Regions from separate parts of the Homo sapiens genome. Here region 2 is linked to region 1. The links come from fine-mapping of genetic effects on gene expression. A gene starts in region 1. The other region holds a variant in brackets. All regions are shown on one strand. Distances are between the middles of the regions.

Evidence for each region. PIP is the estimated chance that this variant, and not a neighbour inherited with it, causes the effect.
Region 2: its variant is the best candidate, but not a certain one, in a credible set for the expression of RMI2 in whole blood (TOPMed, PIP 0.60).

Annotation. Positions count from the first base shown.
Region 1 is chr16:11,342,414-11,347,752 of GRCh38, reverse strand. It overlaps RMI2 (RecQ mediated genome instability 2), which reads right to left and starts at 2,294. Exons shown (of 2, transcript NM_152308.3): 1 at 1,987-2,294. The coding sequence starts at 2,281. All of the region lies in intron 1 of LOC105371082 (a long non-coding RNA gene), which reads right to left. LOC105371083 (a long non-coding RNA gene) reads left to right here and starts at 2,541. Exons shown (of 2, transcript NR_135174.1): 1 at 2,541-2,640; 2 at 5,330-5,339. RefSeq lists silencers at 1,966-2,045, 2,066-2,225.
Region 2 is chr16:11,317,306-11,322,682 of GRCh38, reverse strand. The region is part of intron 1 of LOC105371082 (a long non-coding RNA gene); the gene reads right to left. Among named protein-coding and RNA genes, the nearest start is that of MIR548H2, 13 kb to the right of the region's middle. RefSeq lists an enhancer at 1,171-1,766. The variant G/T (reference allele first, on the strand shown) is at 2,474.

The DNA of each region.
Region 1 (5,339 bases):
TCGCAGGACACATGAAAAGAGGAGGCCTGTAGTTTGCTGACCCTGTCCTAGACCAACGCTGCGGCTGAGGGCAGGCAGACAGAGGGAAGGCTGATGGGTAAGGCAGTGGGAAGACGGAACAGGAGCATGTGGCAGTAAACGAGTCCTGATATTTTGCATCCTCACTGTGAGCCAGGTGCAGTACTAAGGCAGTTGTTTACTTATTGAATCCACACAACACGCAGGAATGATTAGCTCCTTTTTACAAAATAGTACAAGTCCAGAAAAGTTAACAAGAGTGCTCCAGGCAGCTCAGTTGGGAAGGGGTGGAACCAGAAATTCGACCTAAGCCTTTCCGAGTCCACAGCAGCTCAGGCCAGACCACAGCCCTATCTGCCTCTAGTTAGACTCCAAGACTGAGCAGGAAGGGCCCTTAGGAATGAAGTGATCTTGGCCTGATTTCCCAGGAGAGGGAGCTGAGGTGAGGGAAGGCCCATGGAGCCTCAGAGCTCCTCAGCTTAGACCTCACATCCTCTAGAAGCCTCCCCGGGCCACTCAGCACCTTGCACATCCTCATGGCTCCCCAAAGATCAGCGATCCTCTGCGACACTTGCTCACTGCCTGTCTCCCAGCAGACTCTATCTAGGTCTCGGCTGCAGCCCAACACTGCACATGAGGGGCTGATGTACAACACGTGCTCAACTGACATCCCAGGGAACAAGTGAGATGGATGCCCATTGCCTATCACTCAAGACTATTGGTTCTTGGAGCACTTATGTGTCAGGAACTGGGCCAGATGCTGAGGATACAGTTGTCAGGACCACACAGCTCTGGCCCTCCAGTAGCTTGGGCTGGCCCAGTGGTTCTCAAAGTATGGCCCCCAAACCAGGCGTGGTGGTACAGGCCTGTAGTCCCAGCTACCCAAGGAGGCTGACGCAGGAGGATTGCTTGAGCTCAGGGCCAGCCTGGGCAACACGGTGAGTCCCCTATCTCAAATAAATAAAACATTTAAAAAGTCGAAAGTATGGTCCCCAGACCAGCAGCATCAGCATCACCTGGGAGCTGGTTAGAAATGCAAATTTCCAGCCCCACCTGGACCTCCTGACTCACAAACCCTGAGGGTGGAGCCCCAGCCATCCCAGCTTTACCAAGCCCTCCAGGAGAGACTGATGCTGGCTCAAGTTTGAGCATCAGTGGTTTAAGAGAGGAAGCAGGCAGGGCGCAGCGGCTCATGTCTGTAATCCCAGCACTTTGGGAGGCCGAGATGAGCAGATCACTTGAGGCCAGGAGTTCGAGACCAGCCTGGCCAACATGGCAAAACCCAGTCTCTGCTAAAAAATACAAAAATTAGCCGGGTGTGGTGGCACATGCCTGTAATCCCAGCTACTCGGGAGGCTGAAGCATGAGAATCGCTTGAATTCGGGAGGTGGAGGCTGCAGTAAGCTGAGGTCGCGCCACTGCACCCCATCCTGGGCGACAGAGTGAGACTCCGTCTCAAAAAAAAAAAAAAAAAAAAAAGAGAGGAGGCAAACATGAGTGAGCTACAGCCCAAGACAGTTCAATTAAGGAGAAGTACAGGAGGGTCTCCCGTTCCTAGGGGCTAGGGAGGACTTCCCTGAGAAAGGCACATTTGAGCTGAGACGTTAAGGATGAGCAGAAGTTTCCCAGGACAGTATTTCCCAAAACAAGGATATCAACTGGGAGAGGGGGCTTGTGACAAACGAAGGTGCCGGAGTCCCTCCCCAGAAGATTCCCACTAGGGGTGGGAGAGTCCCAGGAATCTGTATTTGTAAAAGGGACGGCAGGTGATGCTTATCATCAGATCAACTTCACCAAGGAGGGACCGGAGCAAGGGTACCCAAGCGGGGACCCGCAGGGGCAGAGGCCCGGAGGAGGGCCAGACCCGCCCCGCCCCCGTTCGAGTGTCAACAACAAGATCGAATCTGGCCTCGGCAACTTCTCGGCGGGCAGCAGGGAAGAGGGCGCCCGGTAAGGCCCGGGCATTACCTGGGACTAGACAGGGCCGCCCGCGCGGCACCCGCTCCAGGCCGCGGACCGAGAAGTCCCCGCTCGGGTCCCTCAGCCGAGCCTCGCCGCGGTCCGCCATCACTACCCTGCCCTGCATCCACACGGCCGCCAGGTCCAGCGGCCCGCGGCCCGCCGCCGCCCGTGACAGCCGCCACGCGCCCGGGCCGCCCTCCGCGTCGCGCCGCAGCTGCTCCGCCAGCACCTTGAGTGGCGGCGACCTCGGAAGCCGCACCCCCGCGGGGCCGCCTGAGAACGAGTCCGCAGCCGCCGCCATTCCGCCTCGCCGCACCCTTCCGCCCCGCCTCCGCTTTCCCGCCAACTTTGAGAAGCAGCGGGGCCCGGCCCTCAGCCACCAATCAGGAGCGCGCTGGCAGAGCCGGCCAATGGTCGACGTCAGAAGGCGGGACCGCCGGGCGAAGAGGCCCTCTCTAGCAGCCAGGAGTGCGCATGCGTAGATAAAAGTAAATAAACGCCCTCAAGTTAGGAATGAACGGAGGAAATGGGTTAAACGAGAATAAATAATTGAAGGCAGAGAGGTAAAGAACTTCCTCTTTCAACGCATCTCAAAATTTGGCGTGGATGCAGATCACCTACAGAGTATGATTATTCATCTTTACATTGCCTTGTTTTGAGGTTAGTAAATACTGAAACGAATTAAGAGTCCGTGTTTATTGGGAGTGAGCAAGAATCCAGTCAGGAGATAAGGCTGGGGAGGGAGACGGGGAGAGCTGGCAAACTTGCCTTTTCTTTTATTATTATTTTCAGTTATATTTTAATAGCATCAAATAATTTTAAGGTTAATAAAATATATTGCTATTTTTCAGACAAGAAATGCACATTTATTGTAAAAAAAATAGGGGAAAAATGTAGAACAAGAAAATAATTGTAAAAGCCGCTTATAGATACCCACTGTTAATTTTGGGGTATATTAGCCTTTAGGCTTTAAAATATGTGTGTGTATTTTTTTTGAGACAGGGTCTCACTCTGTTGCCCAGGATGGAGTGCAGTGGCACAGTGACGGCTCACTACAACGTTCACCTCCCGGGCATAGGTGATTCTCCTACCTCAGCCTCCCAAGTATCTCGGACTACAGGCGTGCACCACCACGTCCAGCTAATTTTTGTATTTTTTGTAGAGACAGGGTCTTACCATGTTGCCCAAGGTGGTCTGGAACTCCTGGGATCACGCAATCCTGCCTCCTTGGCCTCCCAAAGTGCTGGGATTACAGGCGTGAGCCACCATGCCTGGCCTATTACTGATATACAAATAGTGTTTTGTATATTGTTTTCACTTAATAATGAACATCTTTCTGTATCAGCAAATATCCATCTGCTTCCTCTTGAATGACTGCATAATACTCGATTTGTCTTATCACATATTAAACCAATATCCTACAGTTGGACATTAAGGCTATTTCCAATTTTTCACTTTATAAATATATCCACTGTGGACCTACTTAAAAGATAAATCTTTTTTATTTATTTATTTATTTATTTTTTTGAGACGGAGTCTCACTCTGTCACCCAGGCTGGAGTGCAGTGGCGCCATCTGGGCTCACTACAAGCTCCGCCTCCCAGGTTCCCGCCATTCTCCTGCCTCAGCCTCCCGAGTAGCTGAGACTACAGGTGCCTGCCACCACGCCCAGCTAATTTTTTGTACTTTGTTTTAGTAGAGACGAGGTTTCACCGTGTTAGCCAGGATGGTCTCGATCTCCTGACCTCGTGATCCACCCGTAAAAGCTAAATCTTTTTGTGCATCCTTCAAATAAAATTCCCAGGAATCTCTCCCTAAAAATTGGATGTCCCCAGTCAGCAAAGTCCACAGATCCTAAATCAGGCAATCCTTAAAGTCAAGGTCAGTTCTTAAGAGAAACTTTGAGTTCCCAGGGCCTCCTGCAGTACCAGGCATTCAGAGAGTATTCAGCAAGAGCTTGATTTTTTTTTTTTTTTTTTTTTGAGACGGAGTCTCGCTGTGTCACCCAGGCAGGAGTGCAGTTGTGCCATCTCAGCTCACTGCAACCTCCGCCTCCCAGGTTCAAGTGATTCTCCTGCCTCAGCCTCCTGAGTAGCTGGGACTACAGGTACACGCCACCCGCCTGGCTAATTTTTGTATTTTTTAGTAGAGACGGGGTTTCGTCATACTGGCCAGGCTAGTCTCAAACTCCTGACCTCGTGATCTGCCCGCTCAGCCTCCCAAAGTGCTGGGATTACAGGCGTCAGCCACCGCACCCGGCCAAGAGCTTCATTTTTATAAAATTGAGCCAGGTCCTATTGTAAGAACTTTGTAGGAAGTATCCCATGTACCCCCACAGACCCTGAAAAGACTGTTCCACACAGGTGAGGAAACTGAGGCTTAAGGAAGCTAGAGGGCTGGCCCATAGACTCTCAGTAGCCTCTATGAGGTTTTGGCCTCTACACCTAATATGGTTTGGCTGTGTCCCCACCCAAATCTCATGTTGAATTGTACTTCCCATAATCCCCACATATCGTGGGAAGGACCCCGTGGTAGGTAATTGAATCATGGGGGCGGATACTCCCATGCTGTTCTCGTGATAGTGAGTGAGTTCTCACAAGATCTGATGGTTTTATAAGGTGCTTTTCCCCCTTTGCTCGGCACTACTTCTTCCTGCTGCCACATAAAGAAGGACGTTTGCTTCCCTTTCTGCCATGATTGTAAGTTTCCTGAGGCCTCCCAGCCCTGCGGAACTGGAGTTAATTAAACCTCTTTCCTTTATAAATTACCCAGTCTTGGACAGTTCTTTATAGCAGTGTGAGAACAGACTAATACAACACCTCAACCCTGACCTATGAAGTAACCAGGCTCCTAGGCTGAGAAAGGAGCAGGAACATTAACCAAGAGAGAATCCAACCCGTTCATGCCTGGTGGGTCCTCACTGACCTTCCCCCGAGGTACCTTAAGGACAGAGAAGTGACGGAGAAGGGAGTTAGCGTGAAGGGAGAAGCCCCCAGGCTTCTTGTATGAGCCTGGGAATCCCCCATCATTCCCTTGGCCTCCAGATTCCCTGCACCTGCTCCCACAAGCCCAACACCATGTTGCTGGCAGAGTGATCTTTTCAAAACACAAGTCTTAGCATGTCAGCACCGGGTTTATAACACCTTGATGGTGTAATCCACACATCTGGCATGTGAGCATTCCAGGCAGAGGGAACTGCACATGGAGGGGCCAGACAGGGGAGACAAAGCAAGAAGCATGTAGCAAACTGCCAGTAGTTAAGGATGGCTGGGACACAGAGTAGAAATGGAGGACTGGGGATAGATGAGTCTGGCTCTACATAACCTCATGTCTTATCCCCATTTTACAGATGATGAAAC
Region 2 (5,377 bases), 25 kb after region 1:
AAATTATCCGGGCATGGTGGCGGGCACCTGGAATCCCAGCTACTCCAGAGGCTGAGGCAGGAGAATTGCTTGAACCTGGGAGGCGGAGGCTGCAGCCAGCCAAGTCACACCATTTACTCCATCCTAGGCAACAAGAATGAAACTCCATCTCAAAAAAAAAAAAAAAAAAAAAACCAAAAAAAAACAAAGGGAAAATCATGTCTGGACACCCCGGACCCTCAGTAAGTGCTAACACTGCCTGAGGGAACTGGCCATCTTCCGGAAAATTCCTCACCAAGCATCTCTCTGGATTCCCCTCCTCACATTTTTGGCCTCCTGGAGGGAGACAGTGGAGGTCACCATCTTGTCAGATGAGAACACAGCCCTGGAAGTGGGGGAGCCCCAGACCTGGTGTCCTAGCCCCAATCGAAGGTCTCATGTGATGGGTCCCAGAATGGGTTTGCTCCCTGACATCTTCAAAGGAAAAAGAGAAACCAGAACAAGTGAATAGGTTTTTCATAAAGCAGAAGCCCATCTGGGGCATAGGAGAGCAGAGAGTGGTGGAATGCATGTACGTGTGCATGTAGGTGTGTATGCATGTGCGTATGTATGTGTATACGTGTACGCGTATAAGCATGTGTGTATGTATGCATATGTACATGTGCATATGCATGTGCATGTGTATGTATGTGTATGCATGTATGTGTATGCATGTAAACGTGTATGCATGTATGTGTATACAACTATGTGTGCATGCATTTGTGTATGCATGTATGTGTGCATGCATGTGCGTATACATGTATGAGTTTATACATGTGTATGTTTATGCATGTATATGCATATGCATGTGTATGTGTAGCATGTATGTGTATATGCATGTGTGTATGCATGTCTGTGTATGCATGCATGTGTATATGCATGCATGTGTGCGTGCATGTGTATATGCAGGCGTGTATGCATGTAAGTGTATGTACGTGTATGTATGTGTATGTATGCATGTATATATGCATGTATGTGTATGTGCATTAGGTGTGTGTGTTTGCACATGTGTATGCACATATGTATGTTTGCATGTGTGTATTTTTTTCTTTTAGAGATGAGGGCTCGCTGTGTTGTCCAGGATGGTCTTGAACTCCTAGCCTCAAGAGATCCTCCAGCCTCGGCCTCCCAAGGTGCTGGGATTACAAGCAGATCCACCCTGCTCAGCCCCCATGAGGAGCAGTTCTTGAAGGGTGGCCTGGGGCCAGCAGCACTGGCACCACCTGGGGACAGGTGAGGAATGACCATTCTCAGGCCCACCCCGGCTACTGGAGCTCCAGGTGGGTGCTGCAGGTGGCACTGGTGCCTACTGATGTTTGAGGACCACTGGCCTTAGGGATGCAAAGTACAGATGGGGGAGCCGGCCCCTGAGGACTTGAATCCCAGATCTGCCACCTCACAGTTGCATGGCTACTTCCTGTCCCCGGGCATGCATCTCTCAATGAGTTCTTAAGCATCCAGAGCAGCACTTGGCATTTCAGGGACCAGCTTCCATCTGACGATAGGAGCTAACACACGTGCACCAGCTAATTATCTTTTCTTTTAGGAAGGGATGAAAACCATAGATAGTATTTGATTTCTTTGCAACTCCATGTTTGGCGAATTTTTTAAATTGGTAGTTAACTCTACCAATCCCTCCATACCGCAGTCCCCAACCTTTTTGGCACCAGGGACCAGTTTCTTTTCTTTTTTTTTTTTTCTTTTTTTTTTTGAGATGGAGTCTCCCTGTGTCATCCAGGCTACAGTGCAGTGGCACGATCTTGGCTCACTGCAACCTCCACCTCCCAGGTTCAAGTGATTCTCCTGCCTCAGCCTCTGGAGTAGCTGGGATTACAGGTGCCCGCCATCACGCCCAGCTAATTTTTGTATTTTTAGTAGAGATGCGGCTTCACCATGTTGGACAGGCTGGTCTCAAACTCCTGACCTCAGGTGATCCACCCACCTTGGCCTCCCAAAGTGCGGGGATTACAGGCGTGAGCCACCGCACCTGGCCCAGGGACCGGTTTTATAGAAGACAATTTTTCCATGGACTAGTGGGTAAGGGATGGTTTCAGGATGATTCAAGCACATTACACTTATTGTGCACTTTATTTCTGTTATGACATTATAATATATAATGAAATAATTATACAGTTCACCATAATGTAGAAGCAGTGGGAGCCCTGAGCTTGTTTTCCTGCAACTAGATGGTCCCTTCTGGGGACGATGGCAGACAGTGACAGATCAGCAGGCATTAGATTCTCATAAGGGGCACGCAACCTAGATCCCTCGCACGCGCAGTTCACAATGAGGTTTGCATTCGTATGAGACTCTAATGCTGCTGCCGATCTGACAGGAGGCGGAGCTCAGGCAGTAATGCGAACAATGGGGAGTGGCTGTAACACAGATGAAGCTTCACTCACTCACCTGCTGCTCACCTCCTGCTGTGCAGCCCGGTTCCTAACAGGCCACAGAT[G/T]AGTACTGGTCTGTGGCCAGGGGTTTGGGAACCCCTGCCTCTATGTTTATATTTTTAAGTCTGCTGATCTTTGAAATCCTCAAATCAGGGAACCAGTGCTGAAGAGGTCTGAGGTTACTATGGCCCTTTCACAAGTGGGTAAACTGAGGCTCCCTGACCCACCCCCACCCCCGGGGGCACAGGAGCTTGCTCTTTGGACCCTCCTTGCACTGCCCCCACAGGAAAGAACACTTGATGTCCATGGAAATCTTGCTGAGCTGGCCCTGGCAAGGAAACAGGAATGGGGTGCTCTGGGAGCTGGGCCATCCCCAGGCTCCTGCAATTCCTCAGAGCCTCCCCTGGGCAGTGGGGACCCCCAGGGAGCCAGAACACGACCGACCTTGGGTCTGAGAAGGTGCTGCAGGGATGCTCACAGCAACAACTGCAGAAATACCAGGCGCCATTCATGGTTGTTGGCTCTGTGCCAAGGGCTTGGTATTCATTCAAGGCCTGCTCTGCAAAGGGAGGATGGCACCACCACAGCTCACTGCAGCCTCGACCTCCCGGGCTCAGGCAATCCTCCCACCTCAGCCTCCAGAGTAGCTGGGACTACAGGCGTGTGCCACCACTCCTGCCTAATTAAAAAAATATACATATATTGTAGAGTCGGGGCTCTCTGTGTTTCCCAGGCTGGTCTCCAACTCCTGGGCTCAAGCATTCCTCCCACCTCAGTCTCCCAAAGCATTGGAATGACAGGCATGAGCCACTGCCCCTGGCTGACATCCCCATTTTTACAGCAGAGGAAACTAAGCCCCAGAGAACTGAAGCTATAGGCCCAAGATCACCAAGCCATTAAGTGGCAGAGCAAGAATGCGATCCCAGGTATGGGGAACCTCAAAGTCTGGGACAGTTCCAGGCTTCGGGGCCTCAGGACACTCCCATAACCATTCTCCAAGGCACCCACCCCAACCTGACCAGGGCTGAGGAAAGGTAAGGCTGTGGCTCCCAAAAATCTGGTTAACCTCCTGCTTCAGTCCTTCCTGGTGGCTTCCTCCCACCTTCAGAATAAACCCAAACTCCTCCCCACGTGACCTGCCAGGCCCCTGCCTACTTTTCCAGCCCCAGCTCCTCCATCCTCATCACTCACAGAGCTCCGGCCACGCAGGCCTTTCTGTTCCTCCGCACGCCAGGCTAAGTTCACCCCAGGGCCTTTGCACGTGCCGTCACTGCACCCAGGACACTGTTCCCTCTGACATTCACACATCTGGCTCTTCCTCCTCTTCCTCCCCATCTTAGTTCAAACACGGCTTCTGCCAAGAGACCCCACTACCCCCAACCATCTGGCTGGTCTAGATTCCACCCCTTTGCTATCATCCTCTGTTACATCATCTAATCATTTAACTTCCTCCAAAACATCATTCTGCCTAAATTAATCTTATTTATTTGTTCATCACTTGTCTCCCCCACAATGGAATGTGAGCTCAGTTCTGCAGCCTGTGAGATGAGGGCTTGGGTCAGAATTCCAGCCCTGGGCCAGCCACGGTGGCTCACACCTGTAATCCTAGCACTTTGAGAGGCTGATGCAGGAGGATCACTTGAGTCCAGGAGTTACAGACCAGTCTCAGAAACATAGTGAGCCTTGACTCTACAAAAAATAAAAAATTAGCCAGGTGTGGTGGTGCGTGCCTGTAGTCTCAGCTACTCAGGAGGCTGAGGAGGGAGAATTGCTTGAGTCAGGGAGGTTGAGGCTGTAGTGAGCTATGATCATGCCGCTGGGCTCCAGCCTGAGTGAGAGCGTGAGACCCTGTCTCAAAAAAAAAAAAAAAAAAATACATTGTGAATGGTCTATGTAAGTCATAATAAGGTTAGTAAAAGGAATCTTTTTTATTATACTTTAAGTTCTAGGGTACATGTGCACAACGTGCAGGTTTGTTACACATGTATACATGTGCCATGTTGGTGTGCTGCACCCATTAACTCATCATTTACATTAGGTACATCTCCTAATGCTATCCCTCCCCAGTAAAAGGAATTTTTAAAGGAGTTGTATAATTCAGCTGGCTATAATTAAAAATTATAATAATCTTTCTAGAGATGCATCTTTAATATTAAAAAATACACTAATACAAAACTAAATAATTGGTTAAAACAAGATTTTTTTTTAATTTTTTTTTTATTCTTTAGACAGAGTCTTGCTGTGTCACCCAGGCTGGAGTGCAGTGACACAATCTCAGCTCACTAAAACCTCAGCCTCCCGGGTTCAAGTGATTCTCCTGCCTCAGCCTCCTGAGTAGCTGGCATTATAGGCATGTGCCATCACACTCAGCAAATTTTTGTATTTTTAGTAGAAACGGGGTTTCACCATGTTGGCCAGGCTGGTCTCGAACTCCTGACCTCAAGTGATCTGCCCACCTTGGCCTCCCAAAGTGCTGGGATTACAGGCATGAGCCACCACGCCCAGCCAGAAACAAGATTTTATTACAAATACTGACTTATTTTTAATGCAAGGAGTTTTTAAAATTTTTGAATTCCATATTCTTTTTATCATTCTTCAGATTGATATGTTTTTTGAAAAGGCCTTGAATGATACGCTCTCTCCACCTTTTGTTGGCTCCTGTAACTTTTACTAATTGTCTAAAGTAAGGGAGAAATATTTTTTGAAAACAGGCAAATAAAAAGTATCTTTTGAACACTCAAAAACAATTATGATTGGGAGGCCGAGGCGGGCGGATCACGAGGTCAGGAGATCGAGACCATCCTGGCTAACACGGTGAAACCCCGTCTCTACTAAAAAATACAAAAAAAATTAGCCAGGTGTGGTGGCGGGCGCCTGTAATCCCAGCTACTTGGCAGGCTGAGGCAGGAGAATGGCGTGAACCCGCGAGGCGGAGCTTGCAGTGAGATGAGATCGCGCCACTGCACTCC